Linked DNA regions of Homo sapiens: region 2 is linked to region 1. The links come from fine-mapping of genetic effects on gene expression. Tissue or cell type: whole blood. Region 1 holds a variant in brackets; the other region holds the start of a gene. All regions are shown on one strand. Distances are from middle to middle.

Region 1 (8,102 bases):
GTTGTTTCTTGAGGGGATCCAGAAAGTAACCATATCTGAAGAACTCAGGACTGTCCTGGGTTGTGTAATTGACTGGAATAAATGGCGGATGGGATGGTGTTGGGAAATTGATTCCGACTGATGGGCAAGGTTTGTGCTCAGCACATCCCTGGTCTCACACCAATCCTAGGAGTTAGTCCCATTTTTCTGACGCAGTAGTTGAGGCTTAAAGAAGTTCAGTCACATGCCCAAGGCCACAGTTCCTGAAAAGCTGGGCCAAGACTTGAACTGAGATCTTTCTGATTCCTAAGTTTCTCTTTCCTATTGTAAGCACCGGCTTTCTCCCTGGTCTCCCTGCTTGCCCTCTTATTCCCCCTCCGATCTTTTCTTCCCATGTCAGCCAAAGGGATTCCAGGAAAGGGCAAAGATGATTAAGTTTTTTCCTTCCTAAGATCCTTCGGCCATGTGACTTGATGCAATGTATGATCCTGTGTTGAATCCTGGGCTGGGGAAAACATTGCTATAAAGGATTTTATTGAGACAAACAGATTTGAATTTGTGGATTAAACAATTGTATTATTGTATCAACGTTTCATTTCCTGTTTCTGATTCTTGTTCTGGATTTTTTAAAGAGCATGTCTTTGTTTTTAGTAACGTCATGCTGAAGGATTTAGGGATCAAGGGACACGACGTCTTCCACTGCCTCTCAAATGTTCAGAAAAGAAACATACAGCAGAGGTGGCCAAATGTTACTGACTTGCGAATCCAGGAAAGATCTACTTACCTTTCTTGCTAGTTTTCTGTAAGCTTGAAATTATTGCTGGTAAAAAACAAAACAACAACAAAGCAAACCTTCATTCCACTCCTAGGTAGATATCCAAGAGAAATGAAAACATATATTGACACAAAAAACCTGTTATGGGTGGGTGTGGTGGCTCACACCTGTAAGCCCAGCACTTTGGGAGGCTGAGGCTGGTCAATCAGTTGACATCAAGAGTTTGAGACCAGATGGCCAACATGGTGAAACCCTGTCTGTACTAAAAATACAAAAAATAAAAATTAGCCAGGTGTGGTTGCGGGCGCCTGTAATCCCAGCTACTCGTGAGACTGAGGCAGGAGAATCACTTGAACCCAGGAGGTGGAGGTTGCAGTGAGCCGAGATTGCACCACTGCACTCCAGCCTAGGAGACAGAGCGAGACTCCGTCTCAAAATAAATATAAATAAATAAAAAAATAGGTGTTCAAACAATAACTTGTACATAAATGTCCATAGCAACACTATTCACAACAGCCAAAACAACACTATTCGCAACAGCCAAAAGAGAGAAACGTCCATCAACAAGTGAACTGATAAGTGAAATGTGGTCTATCCATACAATGGAATGTTATTCAGCCATAAAAAGGAATGAAGTACTTACTGATACTTTTTTTTTCTTTTTTTTTTTTTTTTGAGATGGAATTTCCCTCTTGTTGCCCAGGCTGGAGTGTAATGGCACGATCTCGGCTCACTGCAACCTCCGCCTCCTGGGTTCAAGCAATTCTCCTGCCTCAGCCTCCCGAGTAGCTGGGATTACAGGCATGCGCCACCACACCAGGCTAATTTTGTATTTGTAGTAGAGATGGTGTTTCCCCATGTTGGTCAGACTGGTCTCGAACTGACCTGAGGTGATCTGCCCGCCTTGGCCTCCCAAAGTGCTGGGATTACAGGTGTGAGCCACTGCGCCTGGCCAAAGTACTGCTACTTGAATGGATGAACCTTGAGAACATTATGCTAACTGAAGGAAGCCTGTCATAAGGGACTACACACTGTATGACTATTTTTATGAAATATCCAGAACAGACAAGTCCATGGAGACAGAAAGTAGATTGATAGTTGCCCAGACCTGGGGGACGGGAGATAGGAAGCGACTACTAACGGGCCAGCGGTTTTGTGCTGGGATACTGAGATGTTCTGAAGCTACATAGTGATGATGTTTGCACAGCACTGGGAATATATGAAAAACCATTGAATTATACATTTTAAAATGATGAATTTTGAGCCAGGTACAGTGGTGTGTGCTTGTAATCCCAGCTACTTTGGAGGCTGAGGCTGGAAGACGGCCGGAGCCCAGGAATTCAAGACCAGTCTGGGCAACATAGCAAGATCCTGTCTCTACTAAAAAAAATTAAAAATTGGCTGGGCGCAGTAGCTCACGCCTGTAATCCCAGCACTTTGGGAGGCCAAGCGGGGCCAGCCTGACCAACATGGAGAAACCCCATCTCTACTAAAAATACAAAATTAGCCGAGCATGGTGGTGCATGCCTGTAATCCCAGTTACTCGGGAGGCTGAGGCAGGAGAATTGAGAACTTGGGAGCCGGAGGTTGCGGGGAGCCGAGATCATGCCATTGCACTCCAGCCTCGGCAACAAGAGCGAAACTCTGTCCCCCAAAAAATAAATAAATAAATAAGGAGTTTTATGGTAGGCAAATTATATCAGAATTTTTCTTTTTTTTTTTTTTGAGACTGAGTCTTGCTCTGTTGCCCAGGTTGAAGGGCAGTGGTGTGATCTCAGTCACCAAAACTTCTGTCTCCTGGGTTAAAGTGATTCTCCTGCCTCAGCCTCCCAAGTAGCTGGAACTACAGGCACCCACTACCATGCCCAGCTAATATTTTGTGTTTTTAGTAGAGATGGGGCTTCACTATGTTGGCCAGGCTGGTCTCAAACTCCTGACCTCAGGTGATCCTCCCTCCTCGGCCTCCCAAATTGCTGGGATTACAAGCATGAGCCACCGCACATGGCCGAATTATGTAACAATTAAAAAAAACAGCAAACACTTTAATGACTGTAGATTACCTCTGGGGTCAAACCCCAAATCCCTGGTGTACCTGCAAGTCTGCCCTGTCCCTCAGACCATCTCAGCCAAACTGCTGACTTTCTAGCCACCTGCCTTTCCTCCTTCCCCAGTGCTAGGCCTTTGCATCTCCTCTTCCCTTCCACCCTCATCTGACAACTCTATTCATCTCACAAGTCTTAGCTGACTGGCCAGGAGCGGAGGCTCACACCTGTAATTCCAACACTTCAGGAGGCCAAGACCAGAGGGTTGCTTGAGCCCAGGAGTTCAAGACCAGCCTGGGCAACATGGTGAAACCCCATCTCTACAAAACATACAAAAAACTTAGCCAGGTATGGTGGCACGCATCTGTAGTCCCAGTTATTCGGGAGGCTGAAGTGGGAGGATCACCTAAGCCCAGGAAGTCAAGGCTGCAGTGAGCCATGATCATACCACTACACTCCAGCCTGGGCGACAGACTGGGACTCTGTCTCAAAATTAAAATTAAAATTAAATTAGGCCAGGTGTGATGGCTCATGTCTGTAATCTCAGCACTTTGGGAGGCCAAAGTGGTCAGTTCACTTGAGGTCAGGAGTTCAAGACCAGCCTGGCCAACATGGTCTCTACTAAAGATACAAAAATTAGCTGGGCGTTGTGGCAGGCACCTGTAATCCCAGCTACTCGGGAGACTGAGGCAGGAGAATGGTGTGAACCCGAGAGGTGGAGTTTGCAGTGAGCCGAGATAGCGCCACTGCACTCCAGCCTGGGCAACAGAGCGAGACTCCGTCTCAAAAAAAAAAAAAAAAAAAATTAAACAACCTGGAGCTTGAGATCGGCACTGGAAGTAGGGAACAGGCTTGGCTCAGTGGCTTACACCTGTAATCCCATCCCAGCACTTTGGGAGGCCAAGGGGGACGGATCATTTGAGCTTCAGAGTTCAAGACCAGCTTGGCCAAAATGGTGAAACTGTCTCTACTAAAAATACAAAAAATTAGCCAGGTGTGGTGGTGGGTGCCTGTAATCCCAGCTACTTGGGAGGGAGGCTGAGGCATGAGAATCACTTGAACCCCGGAGGCGGAGGTTGCAGTGAGCAGAAATCACACCACTGCACTCCAGCCTGGGTGACACAGGGAGACTCCATCTCAAAAAAAAAAAAAAAAAAAAAAGAGCTC[A/G]GTAACTCAGGCCTATAATCCCAGCACTTTGGGAGGCCAAGGCGGGCAGATGACCTGGGGTCAAGAGTTCCAGACCAGCCTGGCCAACATGGCGAAACCCCATCTCTACTAAAAATACAAAAATGACTTGGTCGTGGTGGCGGGCGCCTGTAATCCCAGCTACCTGGGAGACTGAGGCAGAAGAATCGCTTGAACCCGGGAGGCAGAGGTTGCTGTGAGCTGAGATTGTGCCATAGCACTCCAGCCTGGGCAACTCTTTTGAGACAGAGCGAGACTCTGTCTCAAAAAAAAAAAAGAAGTGGGGGGCAATCTTGTGGGACTCAGCCTTCAACCTGTGGGATCTGATGCTGTCTCCAGGTAGATAGTGTCAGAAGTGAATTGAATTGGAGGACAGGCTGGTGTCCCCTGGGGGGAGAAGATCCCCCTCATATCTAGTGACAGAGCGTGTTGTGAGTGTGTCGTGGGACAAACTGTTTGTGTATTCCTCTATTCTCAGAATTCCCTGCACTGTCTTTTCCTAACAATTCCTCTTTATCCTCCTCCTCCTCCAGGAAGCCTTCCCAAACCCCAGGCTGGGTCAGGTGCCTGCTCTGAGCTCCCACATCCCCAGGACTCACTCCCCCTATCCACTTTAGGGAGAAGTCTGTAACCTCCACAGACCCGAGAGTTCCACGAGGTAGACCCCAGGGTCTCCCAGTAACCGCCACAGAGCAGATACCGACAAACACTCATTGCATTGACCTAACCTCACTCCACCACCATCTCCCCAGACCTCTCGGTTCTTGCCTTCCACCAGCCCCTCACCAACCATTTTTGGCTCTTCTCCTTGCCTATGCTGCTGCCATATGTATGATTTTTTATTTTACTTAATTTAATTTAATTTATTTATTTAAGGTGGAGTCTTACTCTGTCACCTAGGCTGGAATGCAGTGGGGCCATCTTGGCTCACTGCAACCTTCACCTCCCAGGTTCAAGCGATTCTCCTGCCTCAGCCTCCCCAATAGCTGAGACTACAGGCACACACCACCACACCCAGCTAATTTTTTTCTCTCTCTTTTTTTTTTTTTTGTTGTTGTTGAGACGGAGTCTTGCTCTGTTGCCCACACTGGAGTGCAGTGGTGTGATCTCGGCTCACTGCAAGCTCCACCTCCCGGGTTCACACCATTCTCCTGCCTCAGCCTCCCAAGTAGCTGGGACTACAGGCGCCTGCCACCACGCCCGGCTAATTTTGTTTTATATTTTTAGTAGAGACGGGGTTTCACTGTGTTAGCAAGTATGGTCTCGATCTCCTGACCTCGTGATCCGCCCACCTCAGCCTCCCAAAGTGCTGGGATTACAGGAGTGAGACACCGTGCCCAGCCACGCCCAGCTATTTTTTTTTTTTTTTTTTTTGTATTTTTAGTAGAGACGGGATTTTGCCATGTTGTCCAGGCTGATCTCGAACTCCTGATCTCAAGTGATCCACCTGTCTCAGCATCCCAAAGTGCTGGGATTATAGGTGTGAGCCACCGTGCCTGGTCTGTATTATTTTTTATTTTTATTTATTTAATTATTATTATTTGTTTTTGAGATGAAGTTTCACTCTTGTTACCCAGGCTGGAGTGCAATGGTGTGATCTTGGCTCACCACAACCTTCGCCTCCCAGGTTCAAGCAGTTCTCCTGCCTCAGCCTCCCAAGTAGCTGGGATTACAGGGATGCACTACCACGATCGGCTAATTTTGTATTTTTAGTAGAGATGGGGTTTCATCATGTGGGTCAGGGTGGTATCCAACTCCTGACTTCAGGTGATCCACCCACCTCGGCCTCCCAAAGTGCTGGGATTACAGGTGTGAGCCATCACACCCAGCCTTATTTCCCACGCCGAGACAGAGTCTTGCTCTGTCGCCCAGGCTAGAGTGCAGTGGCAACATCTCGACTCACTGCAAACTCCGCCTCCCGGGTTCAAGCAATTCTCCTGCCTCAGCCTCCCGAGGAGCTGGGATTGCAGGCATGTGCTACCAGGCCCAGCTAATTTTTGTGTTTTTAGTAGAGACGGGGTTTCACCATGTTGGCCAGGCTGGTCTCGAACTCCTGACCCCGTGATCTGCCTGCCTCTGCCATCCAAAGTGCTGGGATAACAGGCGTGAGCTACTGAGCCCAATCAATTTTTAAAAATCATATATACTCAACACCTTTGCTTTTAAAAAACCCTTAAGCATTTTTTAAAATACAATTTTGTTTTATTTCAGATGGAGTCTTGCTGTTGTCGGCCTGGGCTGGAGTGCAATGGCGCGATCTCAGCTCACTGCAACCTCTGCCTCCTGGGTTCCAGCAATTCTCCTGCCTCACCCTCCCGAGTAGCTGAGATTACAGGCGCCTGCCACCACACCCGGCTAATTTTTGCATTTTTAGTAGAGACAGGGTTTCACCATGTTGGCCAGGCTGGTCTTGAACTCCTGACCTCAGGCGATCCACTCACCTTGGCCTCCCAAAGGGCTGGGATTCCAACTATGAGCCACCGAGCCCGGCCTATTTTTTCCTCTTTTGATCGTGATGATTCTAGTGGGTGTGAGGTTGTATCTCATTGTGGTTTTGACTTCCATTTCCCTAATACTGATGACTGAGCATCCTTTCCTGTGTTTCTTGGCCATTTCCTCACCACCTTCTGCAAGCTGACCTCAGCCCTCACCACCTCACTGAACCATCATTTCCACCTTCACCAGTCCAGTGGTTTATCTTAATTTCCCTTCTTTTCTCTCTCAGCAACTTTGGACACTTCCTCCCTCGCCAGCCATTCTTGGTCTTCGTCTTCCTTTTCTGGAGAGAAATGTAAGAACTTAGGCCAGTTAGTTAACTTCTCTGTGCCTCGGTTCTTCATCTGTGAAATGAAGATGACAACAGCTCCTACTTCAAGGTTGCTGTGAAGATTCCATCAGCTAATGTATGTAAAGGGCTCAGAAGTGTTGGGAGGCCTTGGCCAGGCGCGGTGGCTCACGCCTGTAATTCCAGCACTTTGGGAGGCCGAGGCGGGTGGATCACGAGGTCAGGAGTTCAAGACCAGCCTGGCCAAGATGGTGAAACCCTGTCTCTACTAAAAATACAAAAAATTAGCCGGGTGTGGCAGCGGGCGCCTGTAATCCCAGCTACTCGGGAGGCTGAGGCAGAGAATTGCTTGAACCTGGGAGGTGCAGGTTGCAGTGATCGAAGATCGTGCCACTGCACTCCAGCCTTGGCAACAGACCAAGACTCCGTCTCAAAAAAAAAGAAGTGTTGGAAGGCCCAGGCAGGCGCATCATTGGAGCCCAGGAGTTTGAGTCCAGTCTGGGCAACATGGTGAAACCCTGTCTCTACAAAAAATACAAAAATTAGTCAGGTGTGGTGGTGTGTGCCTTTATTCCCAGCTAGCCAGGAGGCTGAGGTAGGAGGATTGCTTGAGGCCAAGGGGTTGAGGCTGCAGTGAACTATGATTGCCTGTAGTCCCAGCTACTCGGGAGACTGAGGCAGGAGAATTGATGGAACCTGGGAGGTGGAGGTTGCAGTGAGCTGAGATCGCGCCACTGCACTCCAGCCTGGGTGACAGACGGAGACTCTGTCTCAAAAAAATAAATAAATAGGCCAGGCGTGGTGGCTCACGCCTGTAATGCCAGCACTTTAGGAGGCTGAGTTGGGGAGATCACAAGGTCAGAAGATCGAGACCATCCTGGCCAACATGGTGAAACCCTGTCTCTACCGAAAATACAAAAATTAGGTGGGTGTGGTGGCTCATGCCTGTAGTCCCAGCTACTCTGGAAGCTGAGGCAGGAGAATTGCTTGAACCCAGGAGGCGGAGGTTGCAGTGAGCCAAGGTTGCGTCACTGCACTCCAGCATGGCGACAGTGAGACTCTGTCTCAAAATAATAAAAATAAATAAATAAATATAATTTTAGGAAAAGTCACCAGAAATTCAAAACAAAAACAAACTCCGTTGCAGAAATCGGATGTGAAAATTGTTCACTTTCATTCAGAATCTGCGGGTCGGCCAGGCGCAGTGGCTCATGCCTGTAATCCCAGCACTTTGGGAGGCTAAGGCAGGCGGATCATGAGGTCAGGAGATAGAGACCATCCTGGCTAGCACAGTGAAACCCCGTCTCTACTAAAAACACAAAAAATTAGCCAGGTG
Region 2 (8,102 bases), 110 kb before region 1:
CGCCCCCAATCCCCACCCTCATCCCTTCCCCCACTTCCCCTACCTCACCCAGCAATAGCCCTCGGCCCCACCCTAGCCCCACCCGGCAAGCCCCACCCTCATCCCTCAACCCACTTATCCTCCTCCCCTACCCCACCCAGCTCCAGCCCTCAGCCCCACCCTGGCCCCGCCCTCTAGCCCTCAACCCCACCCCTTACCCCGCCTCACCGCGGCCCTCACCTCGACTCCGCTGGTCCACGTGGGCGACACGGACATAACCACTCTGACAGCCCAGAGCTGAGAGGCGCCGGGACGTGCCGGGGAAGTTGTGGACGTCCAGCCAGAGGACGCTGGCGGGCGGGTGGATGGACAGGACGGACGGCCATTGCTGGGCCCAGCCCCGCCCCTCTGCCTCCCCAGGGGCAGCCGCCCCTCCCTGTAGCCCTGGGACCCTGCTGCTTGATTCCTCCTGGATAATCCCCACCGCCCAATTCCTCTGAGGTCAATTCTCACCACCCGAGGGCTGAGTCCACCTCTTGTTTTTTCTGGGGTCACCCCTGCTGATCAATTTCTCTGAAGTCATGCCGTGGACTGATTTTTCTGAGCTCCTCCCCGGTGACCAATTTCTCTAAGGTCTCACCGCCCGATTTCTCTGATGTCAGTGCCCCGGTCCCCAGTGGCCTCTTTCGGGGCCTCTCCTACCTACTGGTCAGGTTCGTCAGCTCTGGGAAGAGGTTTTCCACGGGCTGTTCCTCAAACTGATGCAGCCCCTCGTTCTGGGGAAACCAAGACCCACCCCACCCCCGCTTAAGTCAGCCGTCAGCTTCACACATATACCCACCCAGCGCCAGCCCACAGTGAATCCCACAGGGCTCTGCCCAGCACGCCGCCCCACCTCACCTCCTTGTAGAGATGAATGGCCGGGTCGTTCCCACTCAAGAGAAACACAGTCTCAAGTTGATCCCCGACCTGGACCCTGAAAGCAGAGAAATCTAGAACCCAAGGTAGTGGAATCCACATGGTCTGAGAACCAGAACTCTCCTCTTGCAAAAACCCCTGCCTGTTGAGAACCTTAACATTCTGGGATCCAGACACTAGACCCAGGGTTAGAATCTCAGGGCTCAAGCTCCTGAGTACTGTATCTCCTTGAAATACATAACTGTAGAAACGAGCCCTCATAGAATCTCAAAATCAAGGAATGTACCTCCCAATCTCAGAATTGCGGGAACATGGCTTGCTAGAACCTCCCGCTCTTAGAGCCCGCATCTACTCCTACCTTCACTCTGTGGATTCAGGAATCGAATGTGGAACTCTAGAATGAACTGCAGAACCTTAGAAAGCTAGGACCTCTTCATTCTGAAACCCTGGTATTCTAGAAGTGCTGTTTTCTGTCTCCTTAAAAATACAAGAACTTCTAGAATTTGCCATCATAGATTTCAGATTCACGGAATGATAGAATATCCAAATCCTAGCAAGGAGAACATTAGTGCAATTAGAATCTTCAGTTTTGGGGACTCTCACCTGTTAGACCAGAGGTTGGCCAAGTTATGACCTGCAGACCAAATCCAACCCACCATCTGTTTTTGTAAATAAAGTTTTATTGGAACATAGCCACATCCATTCATTTATAGTGTCAATGGCTGCTTTCTGGCTACAATGGCAAAGTGAGTAGTTGTGACAGACTGGCCCTCAAAGCCTAATATTTACTATCTGGATCTCTACCAAAAAAAGTTTGCCAATCCCTGTTCTAGACCATCTGTGTTCTGGAATGGAATCTGGAACTCTAGAATGGAACCCACACACTTTGGGGTTCTAGCACCTTGGTATTCTAGATGCTCTATGTTCTATCTCCTCGAAAGATGAGAATGTCAGGACTTTATCATTACAGAACCTCAGAAGATTCTGGCTTCTATCGTACTGTAGAATATTCAAATGTTGGAATCTTAGAGCCTACGACTCTAGAAAACTTAGCATCTCTGATCTTGGAATGTCAGACTCTAGAACATTAGAATCTGGGAATTCTAGATGTGCAGAATTCCCAGAATTCACAGGTGCTCCATCAACTCTCTCAGATTATCTAGTTCAGGAATGGCAGTGTGGTGGCCCCTTGGCCATCCGGTCCATGGCCACCTTAAAAGCATGATGCTCCGGCCAGGCGTGGTGGCTCACGCCTGTAATCCCAGCACTTTGGGAGGCCAAGGCGGGCGGATCACCTGAGGTCAGGAGTTCGAGACTAGCCTGGCCAACATGGCAAAAACCTATCTATACTAAAAATACAAAAATTAGCCGGGCATGGTGGTGTGAGCCTGTAATCCTAGCTACTCAGGAGGCTGAGGCAGTAGAATCACTTGAACCAGGGAGGTAGAGGTTGCAGAGATCGAGCCACTGCACTCCAGCCTGGCAACAGAGCGAGCATCTATCTCAAAAAAAAAAAAAAAGAAAGAAAAAAAAAGTGCAATGCTTTAAAAAACAAATGTAGAATCTGATTGTCTATGGACAAGTTCGTGGTCTCCAGTTAGCTACAGCTTTCCAACCTCAGCTGCATATGTGTGTGTGCACATGTGCTCCCTGTTATATTACATTTGTGCTTTCCATTCTCACATGACCTCTCTGGTCCCCAAAGGCATTTTAGTTTAATTTCATTTTATTTTATTTATTTATTTTTGAGACAGAGTTTCGCTCTTGTCACCCAGGTTGGAGTGCTGTGGTGCAATCTTGGCTCACTGCAACCTCCGCCTCCCGGGTTCAAGTGATTCTCCTGCCTCAGCCTCCTGAGTAGGCTGGGATTACAGGCACACACCACCATGCCCAGCTAATTTTTGTATTTTTAGTAGAGACGGGGTTTCGCCATGTTGGCCAGGCTGGTCTCAAACTCCTGACCTCAGGTGATCCGTCTGCCTCAGCCTCTCAAAGTGCTGGGATTACAGGTGTGAGCCACCGTGCCCGGCTGGCATTTTAGTTTTCAATCCCTAATCTAGTACAACCTCTTTATTTTCCAGAAGGGGAAACAGACTACAGGGGTCTGTAAGTAAAGAAGGGGTTCGAGAAGCCAGGGTTTCTACATTTACAGTGGAGTGGGCGTCGATGCGCAGGGGACACTCACTCCGCATGGCACAGCTGGAACGGAGTGAACTGGAGCTCCAGGTTCAGGCAGCTCTCTGTAGGCAGGGCACAGGCAGGTTAGCATGGGGGACCTGCTGGGGACTCTCTCCCTCCTCCCGTCCACGCCTCACTCACGGGCAATAGAGTCAAGGTTGTACTCAGAGCCGGGCTCGTAGTCGCAGTAAATGTTCAGGAAGGGGCTGCCCTTGTCCCCTGAATCCTGGCGGAGGACACGGGGTTCAGGGGAGGGCAGGGGTGGCAGGAGGGATCCGGGGCGGCTCAGTGGAACTCACCATGTGTGTAAGGAGGAGGGCGAAGGGAGGTGGAGGGGGCTCTAGGTACCTTGATGAACGTGATCCCCACAACCAGACCCCGCTTGGGGGGTGACTTGTTGAAAGTGTCGATGGAGACAATCTCCGCATCCACTGGGAGGGGAGAGTTCTAAGTTCAGTGTCAGGCAGACTCATGCTTCCAATCTCCCCAACATGGTGAGCTCTGGCTACCGCAATGATCATGCCCTCTGGTCTGAGTCCTGACCACCATCACCTGATCTCTGTTCCCTGGGTACTAGGGATCCTGACCTGTAAGTCTGAAGAATCCTGAAACCCTAGGCTCATCCGGGCCCCAACTATGCCTGCCCGCTGATCCCAGTGACCCCCTTAAAACCACCTGATCCCATTCTTCCAGCACGGTGACCCGGCTCAGACAGAGCCTCAGAAGCCTTCTCAACACCACGTTCCAGGCCCCCGCCCCCCAGCACCATAGCGCCACCCACCGGGAATGTAGTTGAACTGCAGCTCCTTGGCCACTGGCCGGATTTTCTGTCGGAGGTCTTGGTAGCGGAAGCCGAGCACCTTGCCTTTAAGGGTGGCGGCCAGCAGCTCCCCGCGCCCGCCGGCGCCGCCTGCCAGCCCGTACACATTGCTCTGCGACGAGAAGCGCGTGAAGCTGTCCTCGCGCAACGGACAAGGCCCCGCGGCCACGGCCGCCTCCCCCATCATGCCCCTCAGTTAAGCACCCTCTCCGCAGCCCCCGCCCCAACCCGCACTACCCAACCTACGACTCTCTAAGCGACCTGAACCGCCGGGTGCCCGGCCGTTGCGCGGGCTGATGACGTACGGAAGCTGCCGGCGTTGCCCTCTCCCAAGATGGCGGCCAGGTCGCCTGCTCGGGCCTCCCAGGCGACTTTGCCCCACTGCGCCCGCGCTCTCTTCTCCTTTCCATTTCTGGACCAAGGGGCTGCCATAAGGAGTCTGTGACTAGAGATGGGAGGTGGTGGCCACGGCCTCTCGCTGTATGCTGTGTGGAAGGTCGAATCATCATCATCATAAAACTTAATATTGCCCTTATGTGCCAGGAACTACTGTAAGTGCATTCCATCTAATACTTTATTAAAAATTCGCAAGGGGGTGGAGGTAGGTACTTAAATCCATTTTAGAGATGAAGGAATTGAGGCACAGAGGGGTAAAGTAACTTGCCTAAGATCACACAGCTAGTAACGAGCGGTCAGTACTGGAAACCAAACAAGGTAACTCCACAGTTCACTATTTTTTTTTTTTTTTTTTTTGAGACGGAGTCTTGCTCTGTCACCCTGGAGTGCAGTGGTGCGATCTCGGCTCACTGCAACCTCTGCCTCCTGGGTTCAAGCGATTCTCCTGCCTCAGCCTCCCAGCAGCTGGGATTACAGGCGCCACCACACCTGGCTAGTTTTTCTATTTTTAGTAGAGATGGGGTTTCGCCATGTTGCCCAGGCTGGTCTGGACCTCCTGACCTCAGGTGATCCGCCCACCTCGGCCTCCCAAAGTGCTAGGATTATAGGCGTGAGCCCCCTTGCCCGGCCTATAGTTCATAATCTTAACAGTATCACCTTTAAAATAATTAATACATTCTTCTTGCCCCCAAGGAAAAATGATCCAGCTATAATAACCACCTCCTTTATCGAACACCTACTTGGTGACAGTCATGCTGGCTCTGATAATCTGATTCCTTACAACTGTTCTGCAAGGGCCTACTGTTACCCTCCCTGCCGGTTCACTTATTCAGGATTCATTGAGCTTTTACTATGTGCCCGGACGTCCTTTGCAAATCTGTCTCACTAATCTTTGCAAGAAAGAAACCTCTACAAAGAGGTTTATTATCCCAGTTTAGAGAGAATCAAATGGAGGCTCAGAAAGAGTAAGTCCACTGACTGATATGCTAGCAAGTGGTGGGGACAGGATGTAAACCAGGTGTTTCCGACTCTGGGGCCTTCAGGGGTTCCTGTCTGTGCTGCTTTGTCCCTAGAAGGCCATGGAGGTTTGGGTACTATGTGCACATCTGTGTATCATTTCCAGAAGACATGGGTTGGCCAGCTGTCCTGGACACCTCGAGCACACACAGACTGCAAGCTCCATGAAGGCAGCAGGCTGATCTCCCTTGATCACGGCCTTATCGCCTGTACCTGGAACACAAGGCCTGACACAAAGCAGGCATTCAGAAAATATGTGTCAAAAATCACAAACTATGTGCTGAGCATGTAAGAGACAGCTCTTACATGATGGAAAGTTCTCAAAGGCAGACTGGATAACGGAGGTGGCAAGGAATTTGTGATGATTCCAGATTTCTGGATGTGGAGAGTAGAAGTTCCTGGAGGGCAGTCTGGGAATGCCGTCAGTGCTGCTGTATTCCCAGGGCCTGGCATGCAGCAGGTGCTTAGTGAATATTCGCTGAGGGAGTGGCACGTGGGTCTAGTGCCACTTCAGCAGTGCGTTTCCTTCAGGCGTCTTCCCGCCCTAGTAACCTATAAGCCACATGTTGAGCGGATGAATGAAAAAATGAAGTTACAGGTTAGGAAGGAATCATCCTGTTAAGAGGTTTCCAATCCTAGCTGCACACTTGAACTGCCTATGAAGTTTTAACAAAACAAACCAAAACAGGCCGGGCCTGGTGGCTCATGCCTGTAATTCCAGAACTTTGGAAGCTGAGGCAGGCGGATCAACTGAGGTCAGGAGTTTGAGACCAGCCTGGCCAACATGGTGAAACGCTGTCTCTGCTAAAAATACAAAAATTAGCTGGGCGTGGTGGCGCACGCTTGTAATCCCAGCTACTCGGGAGACTGAGGCAGGAGAATCGCTTGAACCCGGGAGGCAGAGGTTGCAGTGAACCAAGATCGCACCACTGCACTCCAGCCTGGGCGATAGAGCGAGACTCTGTCTCAAAAAAAAAACAAACCCAAAAACCCCCAAAGGGTAGGAAACCTCAGTCAAACCACAATTTATCAGAGTGCGGCCCCAGTCTGGATACTTTTATTTTTGCACCATCATGCCTAATTTTTGTATTTCTAGCAGAGACAGGGTTTTGCCATGTTGGCTAGGCTGCTCTCGAACTCTTGACCTCAAGTGATCCGCCTGCCTCGGCCTCCCAAAGTGCTACGATTACAGGCATGAGCCACAGCACCCAGCCCCAAGTCTGGATACTTTTAATGACTTTAAAGCATAGCCAGGGCGGACCATCACTGATTTAGGTCATGGATGACAGAAACAGATTCTCACACTATCCTTCAGCCAGCACCCATGATGGGGGCAGACATGGTAATCAATTTCAGGTCTCAGAAGTCTTTGCTGCCATTATCAGTGGACTGGAGCTGTGGGAGAAGCTGCAGGGGAGAGAGGAGCAGGGCAGGTGTCAAGGAATTTGAACCTCACCTGCACTTCTCTAGGCTTTCTGGGCTGGAGCCCCTCTCCCAGGAGTCCACCCTGGTTTCCTAGGCAGCCCCTCCTCTGTGCAATTACTGCCCCTGCTCACTTCCTGACATTTTCCCATCATGCCTGGGCACTGAGCCTCCTTCAGCTGTCTCCTCTGTAGCGAGGGGCCCTGCGCGGGGCAGGGTAAAGCACATGTGTACCAGACAGGGCCCCCAACATGCACATTGTGGAGTGTGGTGGAGGCAGCTGGTTTCTGCCCACCTTTCCTGGGCAAAGGCTCCTGCTATCTCCTCCCCCACTCCCCAGACCCACTCGGGCCTCAGACTCTGCCCACCAAAGCCGCTTCCTCCCCCGTCCTGTGACAGATGGAACAACTGTCACCGGGGCGTTCAGCCTTCCTGCCAGAGAAATGTGGACATGGGAGATTCGGTGGGCTTCCACCCATTCTCATCCAAAGCAGTCATGAGGACCGTCACATTCGACCCTCCCACTGGCTCTGAGGGGTGGCATCACCACCGTGCATCCCAGTTGAGGAAATCAAGGCCCCTGGACCCCAAGAACCCAGAGAAAGATCAAGATGGGCGCTCTGGGACTCCCAAGCCAGAGCTCCTCCCCAGGCCCACCGTCCCTGGGTCTCCCCCACCTAGAAACTGACCCAGCCCACACGTGTTTCAAGGATGCATGCGCCTGACCTCCCAAGAGCTCGCCCAGAGTCTGGGGGACCAGGAGTGTGAGAGGGACTGGTGACTGGCCCAGGGGCAGAGTGGGTAGCAGAGGTGAGGAGGAAGAGAGACTCATGCAAAAGTGTTGTTTTTTATTTTCTTTCTTGGGCCAGCTGCAGCTTCCAACCAAGAAAACCTCAAAGCATTAGGGAAGGAGCAGGTGTGGGGCTGGGGTGGGGAGAATCCCCTAAGCTCCAGGGCCCAGGGTCTAACCTGAGAGGTCGGGGCTGCAGGAAGCTGGGGGAGGCTCCCGGGGCTGGGGGAAGAGGAGCCTGCCCCCAGCAGAAACAGCAGGTCTCAGCGGCTACATGTGCTTTAGAGCTTGGCTGGGGGACAAAAGTGGGAGAGAGAGAGAAACCGGCCTCATGACTCAGCTGGTCAGGAGATAGGGGGCCAGATGCTGACCCCAAATCCCCGGCAGCACCCCTAGCAAATAGGTCTGTATCAAAGATTCTGTACAGCTGGTTTTGGGGGTGAAGGGCACCTATGGGGGCTTAAATAAATGGACAGGGGGCAAGGGATGTAGCGAGAACAGAGGGTGACTGTCCGGCCAGCAGCCTGGGCCTCTGGCGCCCCTGCATGCTGACCCCCGGTGCCACCTGCCCACTGTGGCCCG

The links. PIP is the estimated chance that this variant, and not a neighbour inherited with it, causes the effect.
Region 2: it holds the start of KPTN, and the variant in region 1 is fine-mapped to the expression of KPTN in whole blood (TOPMed, PIP above 0.99).

Annotation. Positions count from the first base shown.
Region 1 is chr19:47,589,531-47,597,632 of GRCh38, forward strand. No RefSeq gene overlaps it. Among named protein-coding and RNA genes, the nearest start is that of BICRA-AS2, 15 kb to the right of the region's middle. The variant A/G (reference allele first, on the strand shown) is at 3,964.
Region 2 is chr19:47,480,079-47,488,180 of GRCh38, forward strand. KPTN (kaptin, actin binding protein) reads right to left here and starts at 4,141. Exons shown (of 12, transcript NM_007059.4): 1 at 3,857-4,141; 2 at 3,424-3,506; 3 at 3,217-3,301; 4 at 3,083-3,137; 5 at 880-955; 6 at 682-755; 7 at 220-329. The coding sequence starts at 4,082. NAPA (NSF attachment protein alpha) reads right to left here. Exons shown (of 11, transcript NM_003827.4): 11 at 7,559-8,102. It overlaps NAPA-AS1 (NAPA antisense RNA 1), which reads left to right and starts at 4,204. Exons shown (of 4, transcript NR_038452.1): 1 at 4,204-4,446. RefSeq lists enhancers at 4,066-4,355, 4,386-4,515.